Linked DNA regions of Homo sapiens: region 2 is linked to region 1. A link means that fine-mapping ties the variant in region 1 to the expression of a gene that starts in the linked region. Tissue or cell type: whole blood. Region 1 holds a variant in brackets; the other region holds the start of a gene. All regions are shown on one strand. Distances are between the middles of the regions.

The links. PIP is the estimated chance that this variant, and not a neighbour inherited with it, causes the effect.
Region 2: ATAD1 starts here. The variant in region 1 is fine-mapped to the expression of ATAD1 in whole blood (TOPMed, PIP 0.93).

Annotation. Positions count from the first base shown.
Region 1 is chr10:87,730,884-87,738,883 of GRCh38, reverse strand. The region is part of intron 9 of PAPSS2 (3'-phosphoadenosine 5'-phosphosulfate synthase 2); the gene reads right to left. Among named protein-coding and RNA genes, the nearest start is that of PAPSS2, 75 kb to the right of the region's middle. The variant C/A (reference allele first, on the strand shown) is at 4,505.
Region 2 is chr10:87,814,684-87,822,964 of GRCh38, reverse strand. It overlaps ATAD1 (ATPase family AAA domain containing 1), which reads left to right and starts at 4,739. Exons shown (of 10, transcript NM_001321967.2): 1 at 4,739-4,798. It also overlaps the pseudogene CFL1P1. RefSeq lists a silencer at 4,592-4,641.

The DNA of each region.
Region 1 (8,000 bases):
AAAAATTAACCCAATTAAGAAATAGGCAAAGGACTTGAATAGACATAACTTGAGATGATCTACAAATGGCCAAAAGCATGTAAGATGCTCAGCATCATTAATTATGAGAAATGCAAATCAAAACTACAATGAGATATCATCTCCCATCCATTAGGATGGCCACTATTAAAAAACAGAAAATGGCTGGGCACAGTGGCTCACGCCTGTAATCCCAGCATGAGCCAAGTTGGGTGGATTGCTTAAGCCCAGAGTTTGAGACCAGCCTGGGCAACATGGTAAAACCCCATCTCTTCATAAAATATAAAAATTAATCTGGCATGGTGGTGCATGCCTGTAGTCCCAGCTACTCAGCAGGCTGAGGTGGGAGGATCACCTGAGCCTGGGAAGGTTGAGGCTGCAGTGAGCCATGATTGCGTCACTGCACTTCAGCCTGGGTGACAGAGACACACACACACACACACACACATACACACACACAGAAAAGAAAAAAAACAAGTGTTGGTGTTGGTGAGGATGTAGAAAAATAAAAATTGGAACCCTTGTACACTGTTAGTGGGATTGTAAAAGGTGCAACCACTATGGAAAACAGTATGGAGGTTCCTCAGTGAATTAAAAATGGAACTACCATATGATCCAGCAATCCTACTTATGGGTGTATATTCAAAGGAAATGAAAGAGTCTTGAAGAAATATTTGTATCCTCATGTTCACAGCAGCACTATTCAAATAGCCAAGAGGTGGAAGCAACCCAAATGTGCATAGATGGATGAATGGGTAAATAAAATGTGGTATACACATACAAGGGAAGATCATTCATCCTTTAAAAGGAAGGAAATCCTGTCACATGCTATAACATGGCTGAACCTTGAGGACATTAGGCTAAGTGAAATAAGCCAGTCACAAAAAAGCAAATATTACATGATTCCACTTATATGAGGTATCTAAATTTCTATGAATTCTAGTCGAATTCATAGAAACAGAGAGTGCAATGGTAGTTACCACGGGCTGGAGGAAGGATGGTAGTTACCAGGAGCTGGAGGAAAGAAGAAGAGGGGAGTTGTTTTTGTTTTTGTTTGAGGCAGGTCTCACTCTGTCACCAGGCTGGCATGCAGTAGCTCACTGCAGCCTCTACCTCCGGGGCTTATGCAGTTCTCCCACCTCAACCTCCCAAGTAGCTGGGACTACAAGCATGCCACCACACCTGGCTAATTTTAAAATTTTTTTTTTGTAGAGACAGGTTCTCACTATGATAACCAGATAGGTCTCAACTCCTGGGCTCAAGCAATCCTCCAACTTCGGCCTTCCAAAGTGTTGGGATTACAAGCGTGAGCCACCATGCCTGACCGCGGGAGTTGTTTAATGGGTGTAGAGTTTCCATTTTGCAAGATGACAAAGTTCTGGAGATTTGGTTCACAACAATGTGAATATGCTTAACATTACTGAGTTGCACACTTACAAGAAGGTTAAGATGATAATTTTTATGTTCTGTTTTTTACCTTAATTTTTTTTTTTAGAGGAACCACCGTTTTTTAACTCACTGAGGATTTATTTCACTGAGGTTAGAAGCAATCACTTTTCTATTCCCAGTCTCAGCTGAAAATGTGACTTCAGGAAAGGGTGGGTGTGAAGAGCACCTGGAGACCTGCAGAAGAACCATCTTCATAGTGTCCCACACATTAGATGGCCCAACTCTGGCCCCCTTTGGTTGTGTCTATCTCATAAAGGCAAGGAGACCCTTGGTGGGAAGACCCACCCAGAGTCATCACCTACTCTTTTGATCATAATCAGGGTACCCAGAACTCTAGAATTTCCTGCCCAATCAACTCTGAGCTTGCTGCTAGGCCTGGGAGAGCTTCATCTCCCAACCTGTCTTTCCAGGGTGGACCACACACTCAGAGCAGCCCTACTTCTGAGGGCGGGCCAAGCAGGGAGGGTCTGCAGAGGTTGTGGAGAGAGCTCAGCCATGCAGCCTGGGGTGCCCACAAATCAATCCAGAGGACCCACATAGCATAGGAAGAGGCCAAGCATAGAAGGAGAAGGGAGAGTTGGTGAAAGGCCAAGGGCCAACTCTCCACACACTACCATATTCTGATGCAGAACCCAGAAGTCTATATTTGAACCTGGCTTTCCAGTTTGTGATTAAGGCATAGTTGTCAAAGTAGAAGGATCAAACACATTTTATTTAGCAGTTTGTTAGTTACACATGTAACTTTTAAATATGATGTATGGCTCTCCATTTGTATTCTTGCTCTGGGCCCCACAAATGTTAGGGGTAAGCCAGGGTTGAAGAATGGTGAAACTAATGAAAAAGAAAAACATGGTCGGGCATGGTGGCTCACTCCTGTAATCCCAGTACTTTGAGAGGCTGAGGTGGGTGGATCATGAAGTCAGGAGTTCAAGACCAGCCTGGCCAATATGGTGAAACCCTGTCTCTACTAAAAATATAAAAAATAGCCAGGCCTGGTGGCGGGCACCTGTAATCCCAGCTACTCAGGAGGTTGAGGCAGGAGAATCACTTGAACCTGGGAGGCGGAGGTTGCAGTGAGCCGGGGTCTCGCCACTGCACTCCAGCCTGGGCAACAGAGTAAGACTCTGTCTCAAAAAAAAAAAAAAAAAAAAAAGAAAGAAAGAAAAGAAAAACATGGCAACCTTTGTTTTTTTTCTATAAGTTTAAATATTTTCCATCTGGTATTGAAGTATAATCAATTACAGAGCTGTGTCTCTCCTAGTCACTGACACAAATACTTACAGCCAATCTCATTCCTCAGTCAAACATGTAATGGTTTTACAATCCTCCCCCTAATCAAACCCCAAGTACCTTTCACCACTTTCCAAATACAACTTGGTTACCTGAAATGTTAGCAGAGAAGAGGGAGGCAAGAGTGAGTGAGAGAAAGCTGATTTGAAACACCTAGTAGGAAGACACGAAGATAGTGATGGTGGACCTGGTTCACAGTCCCCATTATGGCCAGATATTGGGGTTTACCATGACCTGCATTCCAGAGAGGTTCAGGGAGTGGGGGATTGGGATAGAGCAGTGGCTCTAAACAGAGGCTGATTTAGTCACTCCTGGTGACATTTGACAATATCTGAAGATAATTTTGATTGTGATGACTGAAGTGCTATTGGCATCTGGTGAACAGAGGCTAGGGATGCTACTAAATATCCTACATTGCACAGAACTGCCCTCTCAGTGAAGAATTATCTAGTCCAATATGTCAACAGTGCTGAGGCTGAGAAACCCTGCGGTAGACAGAAGGCAATTATGCAAGGTTTTCGGTTGTGTTTTCATGGCCTCTTTTCTAAACTCTGTGCTCAGTCAGATAATTCAACAAGAACATTTTCAAATATCCATACCTATACATCTACTTTCTCCTCATTGCTTAGAGTTGGACACAGCACAATTTTGAGAACTGACCTCCAAACCCCTGAGGATGCAGTAATTTATTCTGGACACTAGGGGTCCACCGTATATTGCTCTATCTATTGGTGAAGGGGGCATCAAACCGAATTCATCCACCATCCAGCCTAAAAACCTGTCTGTTTGAAGAGAGATGTTAAAACTATGTGTTTGGCATTTCTGGGATGGGGAGGGACAAGGGGCATCTCTATCCCTAAGGTGGTCCAATTATCGCCAGAACTGTGTCCAGCTGTCAGGAAGGGAGATCCAGAGGCTCTGCTTAATTTCCCAGGGCTTTGTGGCCTAGAAGTCCCCACCCCCTTCCAAGCTTCCTGCCAAAGACAGCAGGGGGGCCACAGCTAGAGGATTTGCAGAACTAGATGCGCCAAAAGGAATGGGGAGCAGGCTTCAGGAGCCCAGTGAAGTAGCAAATAGGGAATTGGGCTCAAAATTACACACAAGAATGCATAAAGGAGAGGATAAGCTCAACCACTAGCGTAAAGACTAAGAAAGCTATGATAAATAGGCTCAAAGAGGCCAAGGAGAGGAAGACTCAAAAGAAACAATCTGGAGATGAGGGAATGCACTAATTGGAAAGGGAGGAGCAGCTGAGGGTGGGAAGGTGAAAAAGAATGCAAAAAGGGAGCAGAGAGAAGGGAAAGAAACCAGAAAGAAGGAAGGAAATGGTGGATTCAGCAAGATAAGGTCATGATGAAAGGGTGCAGAGAACAGAATCAAAGAGAAGAAAAACTAATGCCTACAAGAGGAGAATACATACATATATATATATATATATATATATATATATATATATATATATACACACACATTCATTTCTGTGCTATCAGTCATAGTCACAGAATCTGGGGCTTTAAGGAACCTGGAGGTAATGTAGATTTAATGTCCTCATTTTCAGAAGAGAAGGCAGTTTTACAGAGGGGAAGTGGCAGAGTTCAAGTGCACAGAGCTTTCTTACCAAAGCCAAGACCCAAATCTCAGACTCCTGCAAACCAGATTCTTCTCATCACTGCACCCACTGCCTCTCATCAGTGGCCCCCATATTGACATTTCAGCTTCACCTGTCACAGGTATGAAAGGGGCAAGT[C/A]CAAATTACTCTGGGAGGACAAAGAAGGGGCACTCAGTTATGCTCATGTGTCATAGGAGTCAGTGCTGACTTCTGAAAGGAGGTAATAAGGTCCGGAGGCAGAGGTGGAAGAAACAGTGTGCCAGGTTGAAGGATGAGTATGTGCAAAAGTCAGAGAGCGCATGATCGAATGACCAGCTCTGGAAGGACTGGACGAGGGAGTGTGTTGGCTGGTGGTGGCAAGAGGCTTTGCGGTAAATTGTATCTTAATAAAGGGGTTTCCAAAGAAAAGTTGAATAATTCACTCTAGCTAAAGAGTGGGAGATTATGGGGGAGTAAGACAAGAGAGAGGAAAGAATTGAAATGTCCTGACCCAAGATGGAATAGAAGAGGAGTGAATGAATTCAAGCAATAACTGAAAGCTACATTTGGCAGGACGTGGTGACTGAATGGACAAGGGGAGAAGAGAGAAGCAAGAATGGCATCCAGGTTTTGGTCACAGGCCACCATTTGGATGGTGAAGCTGTCACTAAGATAGGAGACATAGTAGGGGGAACAGGCTTGGGGGGAGGTTAAACATGTTGAGTTTGAGGTACTTGCAGGATATATGCAGGTGGGGCCCTAAAGAAAATAGCTCCAAACAATTATCTAACTCAATAGTTCTCAACCTTCACAGCCCATTAGAATCACGGGGAGCTTTAACTACCCACCCCTCAATAATCAGATCTGACTCAAAGCCAATTAAATGAGAATCTGTGAGGATGGGATCCAGTCATGGGTGATTTGTAAAGCTCCTCAGGTGATTCTGTTGATATAACTAACCATATGGTTTTCATTGTGGAGCTAAAGGCTATAAACTCTCATTCCCATCTTTCATTGAGAAGTCATATTCTGTTCTCTTGGTTTGTACAAGAAAATGTAGAGTGCAAAACAGGAGTAATGATTCTTACTTTCCTCACCAAGAGCATTGTGAAAAATAATTACTACTTGACAAATCTCTGGGAGCCATGGACGAAAGGCAACAAAGCCCCAGCAAGCATTAGTTTTACAAGTTTCACCTGCTCCTCCTGATGATTTCATTTGAGCGCATGTCACACGGTTCTATACTTAGTGATGCCAAAGAGAGGGCTGGATGCCTTGAATGGAAGGTCAAGAATGACGTTGGAGATAAGCTCTGTAACAAAGGCAGACCATTTCCTAGTGACTCTATTTTCCTTGCAAATATCACTCCCAGTGCCACATGGAAATAGAATAAGGCCCAGGATTCCCGCAGAAGTAATTACTTTTGGAAGCTGTGGGGTTCTAAAAACCTGTGTTAAAGTGTTTTTGTGGGTTTCAGAGTGCTAAAAAAGGACACAGCAAAAAGAATTATTTTGCCAATAAAACTTGTGTGTTTGGTACATGCGACAATCTTCAACAATCTTCATCAATCTCTCTCACTTTTGCACAAAATGTCTGCAGGGTGAGTGGCTTTCTCTCTCTGGTTATCCAAGGCTCATTTCTCACCATTAGCTCCCTGGGAATGTTTATCGAGTCCCCCTAATAACCTAAAGGTATAGAATCACTGAAAATATTGTCAAAGACACAAGTCATGCCACCATTCTCCTTGGCTTCTAAGAAATTCTAAAATTCTGAGTTCCATCTGCCAGCATGCATTGTAAGGCATGATGAAAAAAATACAGGCATACCTGAGAAACATTGCAGGTTCAGTTCCAGACTACTGCAATAAAGTGAATATTGTAATAAACGGAGTCACACAAATTTTTTGGTTTCCCAGTGCATTTTAAAAGTTATGTTTACACTATACTGTAGTCTATGAAGTGTGCAATGGCATTATGTCTTTAAAATGTAATATTATCTAAACTTTTTTTTTTTTTGAGAAAGGGTCTCACTCCTATAGCCCAGGTTGGAGTGCACTGATACAATCACAGCTCACTGCAGCCTCGACTTCCCAGGCTCAGGTGATCCTCCCACCTCAGCCTCCTGAGTAGCTGGTACTACAGGTGTGCACCACTATGCCCAGCTAATTTTTTGTATTTTTAGCAGGGAGAGGGTTTCGCCATGTTGCCAAGGCTGATCTCAAACTCCTGGGCTGAAACAATCGGCCTCCCAAAGTGTTGGGATTACAGGGTGAGCCACCGCGCCCAGCCTATCTTAATTTAAAAATACCTTTTTGCTAAAAATGTTAATGATCCTCTGAGCCTTCAGAGAGTTGTAATCATTCTCCTGGTGGAGAGTCTTGTGTTAATAGCTGCTGACAAATCAGGGTGATGGTTGCTAAAGTCTGGGGTGGCTGTGGCAATTTATTAAAATAAGACAACAATGAAGTTGGTCATATCAATTGACTCTTTCTTTCATGAAAGATTTCTCTGTAGCATGAGATGCTGTTTGATAGCATTTTACGCATGGTAGAACTTCCTTCAAAATTGGAGTCAATCCTCTCACAGGCTGCCACTGCTTTATCAACTAAGCTTACATAATATTCTGAATACTTTGTTGCCATTTCAAGAGAATCTTCACCAGGAGTAGATTCTATCTCAAAAAAACGATTTATTTGCTCATTCATAGGAAGCAACTCCTCATCCTTTCAAATTCTATCATGAGATTGCAACAATTCAGTTACTTCTTCAGGCTCCACTTCTAATTCTAGTTCTCTTGCTATTTCCACCACGTCTGCAGTTACTTCCTCTACTGAAGTCTTGAACCCCTCAAAGTCATCCATGAAGGATGAAATCAACTTCTTCCAAACTCCCATTAGTGTTGATATTTAACCTCTTCCCACGAATTGCAAATGTTCTTGATGGCATCCAGAATGGTGAATCCCTTCCAGAAGGTTTTCAGTTTACTTTGCCCACATTCATCTGAGGAATCACCATCTAGAGCAGCTATACCCTTACAAAATGTATTTCTTAAACAATAAGACCTGAAAGTTGAAATTACTCTTTGATCCGTGGGCTGCAGAATGGATGGTGTTATGCATGAAAACAAATTAATCTCCTTATACATCTTCCTCAGAGTTCTTGGGTAACTAGGTGCACTGTCAATTAGCAGTGATATTTTGAAATGAATCTTTTTTTGAGCAGTCGGTCTCAATAGTGGGCTTAAAATATTCAGTAAACCACGCTGTAAACAGATGTGCTATCATCCAGGCTTTGTTTTTCCATTTATAGAGCACAGGAAGAATAAATTCAGCATAATCCTTAAGGACCCTAGGATTTTCAGAATGGCCAATGAGCACTGGCTTCAACTTAAAGTCACCAGCTATACTAGCTCCTAACAGGAGAGTTAGCCTGTCCTTTGAAGCTTTGAAGCCAGGCATTGACTTCTCTTCTTTAGCTCTGAAAATCCTAGGTGGCATCTTCTTCCAATAGAAGGCTGTTTCTTCTACACTGAAAATCTGTTGTTAGTGTAGCCACCTACATCAATGATCTTAGCTAGATCTTCTGGGTAACTTGCTGCAGCTCCTACATCAGCACTTGCTGCATCACCTTGTACTTTTATGTTATGGAGATGGCTT
Region 2 (8,281 bases), 84 kb before region 1:
TTTAGCTTTTTTTTCATTTTTTAAAAAAGTTTATGGGTACATAGTAGGTGTGTGTATCTATGGATTACATGATATATGCTGATACAGGCATACAATGTGTTATAATCACATCAGGGTAAATGAGGTATCCATTACCTCAAGCATTTATCATTTCTTTGTTACAGACATTCCAATTATACTCTTTTAGTTATTTAAAAATGCACAATAAATTACTGTTGACTGTAGTCACCTTGCTGTGTTGTCAAATACTAGATCTTATTTTTTCTATCTAACTGTATTTTTGTACCCATTACCATTCTCACTTCCCTCCTACCCCCCACCACTATTCTTCCCAGCCTCTGATAACCATCATTCTACCCTCTATCTCCATGAGTTCAACTGTTTTAATTTTTAGCTCCCACAAATGAGTGAGAACATGCAAAGTTTGTCTTTCTGTGCCTGGCTTATTTCACTCAACATAATGTCCTACAGTTCTGTCCATGTTGTTGCAAATGACAGGATCTCATTTTTTTAAATGGCTGAATAGTACTCCATTGTGTTCTATATTATCTTTCTATTGGAGCTTCAAGTACAGCTTCAGGTATAGCTTCATATTCTTGCTTTACTTTTCTTTCTCCATCCATTCTACTTAATTTACCTTGTCAAAATAATGGTTCATATGATTCAGAAGACATGATTTAAAAAATTAAAAAATAATGATTGAAATTATCCTTTTATGATATTTTTAAAAGAACAAAGGTAACCAAGTGAATTATACTGGCATAATTACTGTTATATAATTTTACCTATTTGTTGAAGTTCTATTCTTTCTAAATCATTGTCAAGTGAATTACTTCTAATGAGCAATGAATAGAGTCAGGTTTACTGTGTTTACTTATTCAAAGATTTCAGATTTGTTTTTCCTTCCAAAGGCGTTCTATCCTGAATCTCATCATGAGGCTTCCTTGCCTTGATTTCTTGATGTATTCCAGCTGGGTTAATGGTTCAGCTGACCAGATAGGCCTTTTAGGCTAAGGTAGTAGAGATTTTTGCAAAAATACATCTACAGTCTTCATTCACTAGGGCAGAATTTCTCAAAATAGAGTCCAAAACTACCTATATCCCAATCAGCTCAGATGTTTGTTTACTGATTTACTGATAGGCTTAAACAACAGAAATTTATTTCTCCCAGTTCTGGAGGGTGGGAAATCCAATATACTGGCATATACTCTGTCTGGTGAGGGTATCCTTCCTGGCTTGCAGACAGACACCTTCCTGCATCCTCACATGGCGGAGAGCCCAGATGCTTACTGTAAAATGCAGATTTCTAGGCCAAAACCTACAGTAGTTGAACGGGAGTCTCTGAAGACTGGGAGCCAGGAATCTGCATTTTGCCAAGTTGTCCAAGTTAATCTATATACAGTGAAATTTGAGAACACCTAATTTTTTTTTTTGAGATGGAATCTCACTCTGTTGTCCAGGCTGGAGTGCAGTGGCATGATCTTGGCTCACTGCAACCTCTGCCTCCTGGATTCAAGTGATTCTCCTGCCTCAGCCTCCCAAGTAACTGGGATTACAGGTGCCCGCCACCACACCCAGCTAATTTTTGTATTTTTTTTTAGTAGAAACAAGGTTTCACCATGTTGGCCAGGCTGGTCTTGAACTCCTCACCTCAGGTGATCCACCTGCCTCGGCCTCCCAAAGTGCTGGGATTACAAGCGTGAGCCACTGCGCCCAGCCAAGAACACCTAATTTAAGGAATCCTTTCTTCCCACCAGGTGTCTAGTGCATTAACCTTGATTGCAGAGCAAACTAGCTACACTCCATTTAATAACAAAAGTGGAAAATTCAGCACCTTGGAGGAGAACTGCCATAACTATTTTAAGAGTTACTGATACAGAAAACACACACACACAAAACCCAAAAACTTTCTAGAATAAAGTAATAATTCTTTTTAATATCTTGATTCTAACAAAGAGCAAAGGCCCAGAAAGTCTACAGTCTGCTCTAATTTCCTGATTAATATTATATATATTGAATTATTTATTGAGCCCCTACTGTGGGCCAAATATGGTATTTTGTGTTGCCAGGGATTATATAAAGCTATCCTGGAATGAAAAGCATATGTTCACTCTGCTGTATTCTGGAAGAATCTCATTGATTTGATGATTGCTGAAAATGAATGTACTTGATGTCTTAGGCCCAGACATGGAAGGTTTCTTACGGATTTGCTAAATGAAAATATTAGGTCCAAAACATATAGGTGTAGGCATTTGGTTTCCAGTGGCTGAACCACTGGAAAGGGAGTGAGGTGTAGCACTTTTCGAGCTTGTAGACTCTTTATGGTCAGCCTCGTGACTTTATTCAACAGTTTCCCTTCCTGTGCAATCATCCCTCAAATATTAGGCAGATGAATTGAGACTAGATGTAACCATACTGGGAACTCCATTTCATTGTAGGATTCATTTAGGATGTCTCTAGTAGAGTGACTCATGATTTGCCTGAGACTTTGTCAGCCAGTTTTATATCCCAGCAAACCTTTTAGTCTCATGCAAACTGAAACTGGGTAGGCTGGTCACCCTGGTCCTTAGAAGAGGGCAGGTGAGGCTCTTAGTTGAACCAATTTCACTCAGTAAATGAATGAAAATCCATTACTATCTTGAATTTCTCAGCTCATTTTCCTTACCAGTGGATATAATTACCCTATTGGGGCACAAAACCTGTTTCTTGCCTTTAGTGACCCTCCCCCTTTTAGCCCTGCCAAACCATGTGTCCATGAGCCTCCCAAGCAATGATTCAGCTTGGGATCATCCAAGGACCCAGTGGAGAGTCTCTTGAAAGTCTGCTGAGCACTGATAGCCTCTGTTTTTTGTTGTTGTTGTTGTTGTTTGTTTTTAATGAACATTGTCCTCGTCTCATAATCTTTCCGTTCTTCTCAAAGGTCTATCTCTCTAAATAGTCTAGTAATCCCAAACCTAGCTTCACATCCATTTTTTTTTTAAATTAGGAATGTAGGCATGCACGTATATAAAGCCTTAAATACTAAACAGGCACGGGTGTATTCAATTCCATTCTGATTCCTGTCCATGAACTTAATCATAGTTTTCAACATTCATGCATCCCTTTCATCCCATCCTTTAAAGCCTTGTGATTTTGGCATTTCATGGTCTTACTTTCAACTAGATTTTAAAGTTTAGCTGGTATTAAATTACCATCTCAAAGAGAAAACGTAAAGTACAAGGTATGAATTAGACAGACCTATGTTCCAATGAAATTGTTGCCTTTATTTCCCAAGTATATGAACTTAGAAAAGTTTCTCTAAGGTTTAAGCTTTAAAATTTGCTCATTTGTAAAAACGGAGAAAATGATAGCTATTTTAGAGGATTTTGGGGGAGATATTTAGGTTATGCATGTAAAGCACATAGAAGCTTATTGCCCCACCCCAGCAGACATTAACTAGGTATTATCTTCACCACATTATTACAAGTTTGTAACTAGTAACATTCGTTAACAATCAGGCTGCAAAATTGTTATTATTATTGAGACAGGGGCTTGCTCTGTCGCCCAGGCTGGAGTGGAGTGGCTTGATCACTGCAGCCGTGATCTCCCACGCTCAAGCGATTCTCCCACCTCAGCCTCCCAAGTAGCTGGGACTACAGACATGCGCCACCAAATCCAGCTAATTTTTAGGTGGTTTTTTTTTTTTTTTTTTTTTTTTTTTTGTAGAGACGATTTCTCATTATGTTGTCCAGGCTGGTCTCGAATTCCTGACCTCAAGTGATCCTCTCGCTTCGGCCTCCCAAAGTGTTGGGATTACAGGCGTAAGCCACCGCGCTGGCCAAGCTGCAGAATTCTTTAGCCATCAAAGATGATGCCTCAAGTAGAAAGGCACAAGCTGCCTTCCTGAGGAACACAGGGAGAACTCTCATTACATCATAGTCTCACCGACTCTGTCTGAAGGAAGTGATGCTTCTCGTATCTCAGGAGTGTCTAATGTCATCTGGCCCACCGGCAGTTTGTGTATTCAGGAGGCTCTGGCTTTCAGGTTTGCTCCCTTGGGACCTCTTGTGTCACGTCGCTCGTTCTGGAAAGGAAAAGGGGTGAAAGAAAAAGGGAAATCACCAAAATGCAAAATCTGTTACCAGATGCCCTATTCCGTCCTAACTACCGAGTCTGGTGGCGTGGGCTGCTAAATCTTTTCGCGGAAAGATTGTCAGGCGCCACCCCGAGGTGTTTGTCAGCACAGAGATGGGGGAGAAGGGTGAGCTCACCCGAGAATTGAAAGGCAGGTGGTGAGGGATGAGGGGTGAGGAGTGGAGGGTGGCCATAAGCTTCTGCGTTTTGGCTAAAGTACAGACACAAAGCCGCGGCGTGAGGGTTTGCACAGAGTGGTGGGAAGGAGAGAATGTATTTGCTGGGTACGCAGAGCATTTCTGCACTCTCAAGAAGGCTGCCCGATTTGTCAGGGTTGCGCCCCGAGCCCGCGAGAAGGGCAGGGACTTTTTGTGATAAGCGCCTTCCCAAAGGTAGTGTCTGTTAAACGCAGAGCCTTAGCGAGTGCTGCTCGCAGACACGCCGGCTTCGCAGAAAGTCTCAGTCTAGCAGGTAGCTTAAGCAGACATCAGGTGCGCGAATTTGCTCTCCCTCACTGTTTCTAAGCCTGGGAGCACGCCCCCTCCGCGCCGGCGACCGCGGGTCGCGCATGCTCCGTGGGAGGGAGTGCGCCGCGCCTCCCGCCGGAAGCGTTCTCTCCCAGGTTGCGTTTCCTTCCTGTGTGAGGCCGGCTGAGGGCACTTGCTCTTGCTGTTTCTGCCCCTGGGTGAGTAGCTGGTTCCCGTGGGGCCTCATGGGATGGTTGTCGTATCCTTCTGAGGTCCTTTAAGGACCGTCTCGGACCTGGGAACCCCCGGAGGAAAGGTCACCCCGGTCTTCTCCCACGCCCTACCTCAGTGCCGCCCCCAAGCGCCCCGCAGCCCTTAGTATCTAGAGGATTAACCTCCAAGGGCGTCCCGGGCCTCGCCTTGGCGTCCGGCCCGGCCTGGGCCCTTAGGGTCTGCTTAGCTCTTCCCCAAGACTCGTGCCATTCCCGAGGGAATCTTTGTCGGCATCCTGGTCACTGTGGGGGTTTGAGGTCGTCCCGGAAGACTTCAGAACCAGGCGAACCTAGACGAAGGCGGCTGGAATGAACCAGGTCTGATTGTCGCACAGGCGCGGCCACCACCTTGTGCAAAATCGAAGGTGGTTCTTCAGGGCCGGGCACGCTTTCACAAAAGATGGTGATGTTAATAATAACCTGCCCTCTTTGTGAAGATTGGCAGGCCTTCATTGTCATAGGCTGTATTCGTAGGGCCTTTATGCCTGCAAAACTGGGACTTTTGAGTTTGAGAAACGATTTGTGAAATACTGCAATGAATTAGGAGAGAAATACTACAGTGAATGCTATGCTATGAATGCTATACATGTCAATAAATTGCTCATAGATGAGGTAGTACGATTTCACGGTTTTCCACTCGGAAATGGAGAACTTAAAATGAAACGACCTGATACCATATTTGCCTAACAAATAACTCTAGGTTATAGTGTTTTAGGATGTTTCTTAGTTGCATACAGCACTATCATCGTATATGTACATATTTGTGTATTCATTTTGTTGAACCTAATGTTTATACAGGATTGAAATACGCTCCCTGCTGTTGTATGCGCATGCAGCTTTTATTGTATGTTCGCTGGTGATGGTATTGCTGCTGTAACAGCCTTACATTTTAGGTATATCAATACCAAATGAATGATACATGAGTGTACAATAAAGTATATATAGTTACAGTCTACAAAACAAGTTTCAGTTTCATTGAAGGATTTTGAAGTAATTTAAAAAGGTAGACTACTATTTTACAAGTGGCCTTAGTAGACCTAAGTCTTTATTACATTAAAAATTTCAGAATTGGGAAGGATATAAACGGGTTTTGTGTGTTGACCTTTTATGGGATTAAAAGTTGTTACTATCTTGATGACTGGGATGTGTTCATAACAGCCCTAATTTGTTCATGTAGTTCAATGAATATCCAGTAGATGACTTGGTTGGTAGTTTTATCACTACCAACTCTAAAACGAAAACGTTTTACTGGAATGCCACCGCTTTTCACAGATTAGGTTAATAAAACCCTTATCTTGTCTAAATTATTTTCCTCTGTGAGTATACCCCACGTAGTGATATAACACGTTTCAACTGCATTTTCAACTTTGTGGAATAAAGACTAGAAAAGTCAGTTTTTTACTTCCTATGAGAAGTGAAATATTGTGTAACCCGTTTTTTTTGGAATCCATGCTGATGGAAGATAGCACACTTTGGTTTGTTCCATGAAGAGAGATTTCAGTTAGGTGCCTTCTCCTTTTTGGCTTCTTTTGCTTTCTTTATAATTAATATAATAGCCGGACAGTGTGTTCTTTGAATGAAGTGGTGATATCTTAACAATTATTGTATATCCAATATATAGTGGGCGTCATATATAGATGTTCAGTAAATGCAAATTGAATGAATTAAATCATTTACCATCCCTAGGCCAAAGTTTCTTCCTCCAAAATGAAGGCTTTCAATTATTTAGTTGTTAAGTTTAAATTAAATCTAATTATTGTGAAGTGAATGGCTCCTAGTGGAGAAATGTGGAACCTTTTGGAAATCCTTCAGAAGTGACTGTTGCAATGATTGAATGGGAGATTTCCTTCAGTTACAATTTATCTGTTGAACATAATTTTTGAATAGCCTCTGTTTTGTGTGTGGCAATTATAAACGTCTGTTTTGTGTGTGACAGTTATAAAGGTAGATAAGATATACATCTTGTTTATAAGGATTTAAACTCTAGTCGAGTAGATATCTCAAAAGCAAGACTTTTTTAAGATAGTGTAATAGGGCGAAATGAATAATACGAAGATTCATGTGATTTGAAAGGCTTTATGGAGCAAATAAAGTTGATTTTTGAAGTTAGGATAGAATTTGACTAATCCTAGGTGAATGAGGGTAAATGGCCCATGCAGGATACTAGACAGATACGCTGAAGGGAAAATATATGTGGGATTTTCAGATGGTAGTGACTCCAGCTATTTATAGAGTCCCTTTGAAAAGAGGTGAAAGAGAAAATGCTTACAATTGACTCTGGAGCTAGATTCTAGATTAGAATAGTTTTGAATGCTTGGGAAACGTATAAAGGAAATACTTTGGGGTCTTTTGATTAGAGAGAAGGAGTATATATCCTTGAGTGGAGGTGAGGGGTATAAAAGGAAATAAAAAATTTTTGGAGCTATTCTAGAGGGAGGAAGGTGAAGAGGCTCTTTAATTTAGTAGTAGTGAGAGGAGAATTTTAGAGCTGGAAGGACCATGGATATTAATCTTTGCAGTACCTAACTTTTATCTGCTGAGCCATACAAATTCTGTTTTTTTTCATGTTTATGTAAGTACAAATATATATTCTCTTTTTCTTATATATCCCATAGCATTCAGCACACTCCTGTGCTGAGAGTATAATGGCAGTATTTGAAGCTAAGATCCTATCTCCCAAAATGTGATAGTCATATCATCCCTAACAAGCTTATTCTTCCGGGTAGTTATTGCCATTGACAGAGGAGTGTATGTCTTCTGTAAGCCTAGCTTTGATTGATGTAGCTGTTCAGGGATATATGCAAAAATAGGCACATTTATCTCATTTTTTTTCTCTTTAGCTTGGGTGAGTGCTGTATTCTTGTAGTAGTTGTCTCAGTTCAAGATTTTTCCAAGTTCTATTGCTTCCTACTTAGCCCGGTTGTTGGGAACAATAGTGTGGCTCAAAAAAGTTAATACCACTTATTACTGAGGAAATGGCATGTTTAAATTTAAGCAGGCCTTGAAAACCTTTAAAAGTATGTATGAGGAAAAAGTGAGTCAGTTCACAATTTGAATTTCACTCAAAAATTACCTGGTATATGATACAGTTAATAGAAGAAATTCTTACCGTCACATTAGTATTGTTGGGCTGCCTTTCTTCAGTTGGATTAGTGTTATAGTTGATACTTTCCTAGACTCTGAAATAGTTCTTTAAAGCTGTTTTGAGTAAATACCTTAAGATATTTACTGTATTTTTCAAATAAAATGATTAATTCTACTACCAAATAAATCTTAATTTCTAGTCTACTTCTAGTTTGCAAGAGGAGCTTTAAATGTATTTGTTTACTTAACATTTAAAAATCCATTTCTCCTTAAAATGAAACACTTTTTTTAAGGTAGGTAATATTTTAATTTGACTAGAAGTTAGTTTTTCTTTCTTAGTTTAAG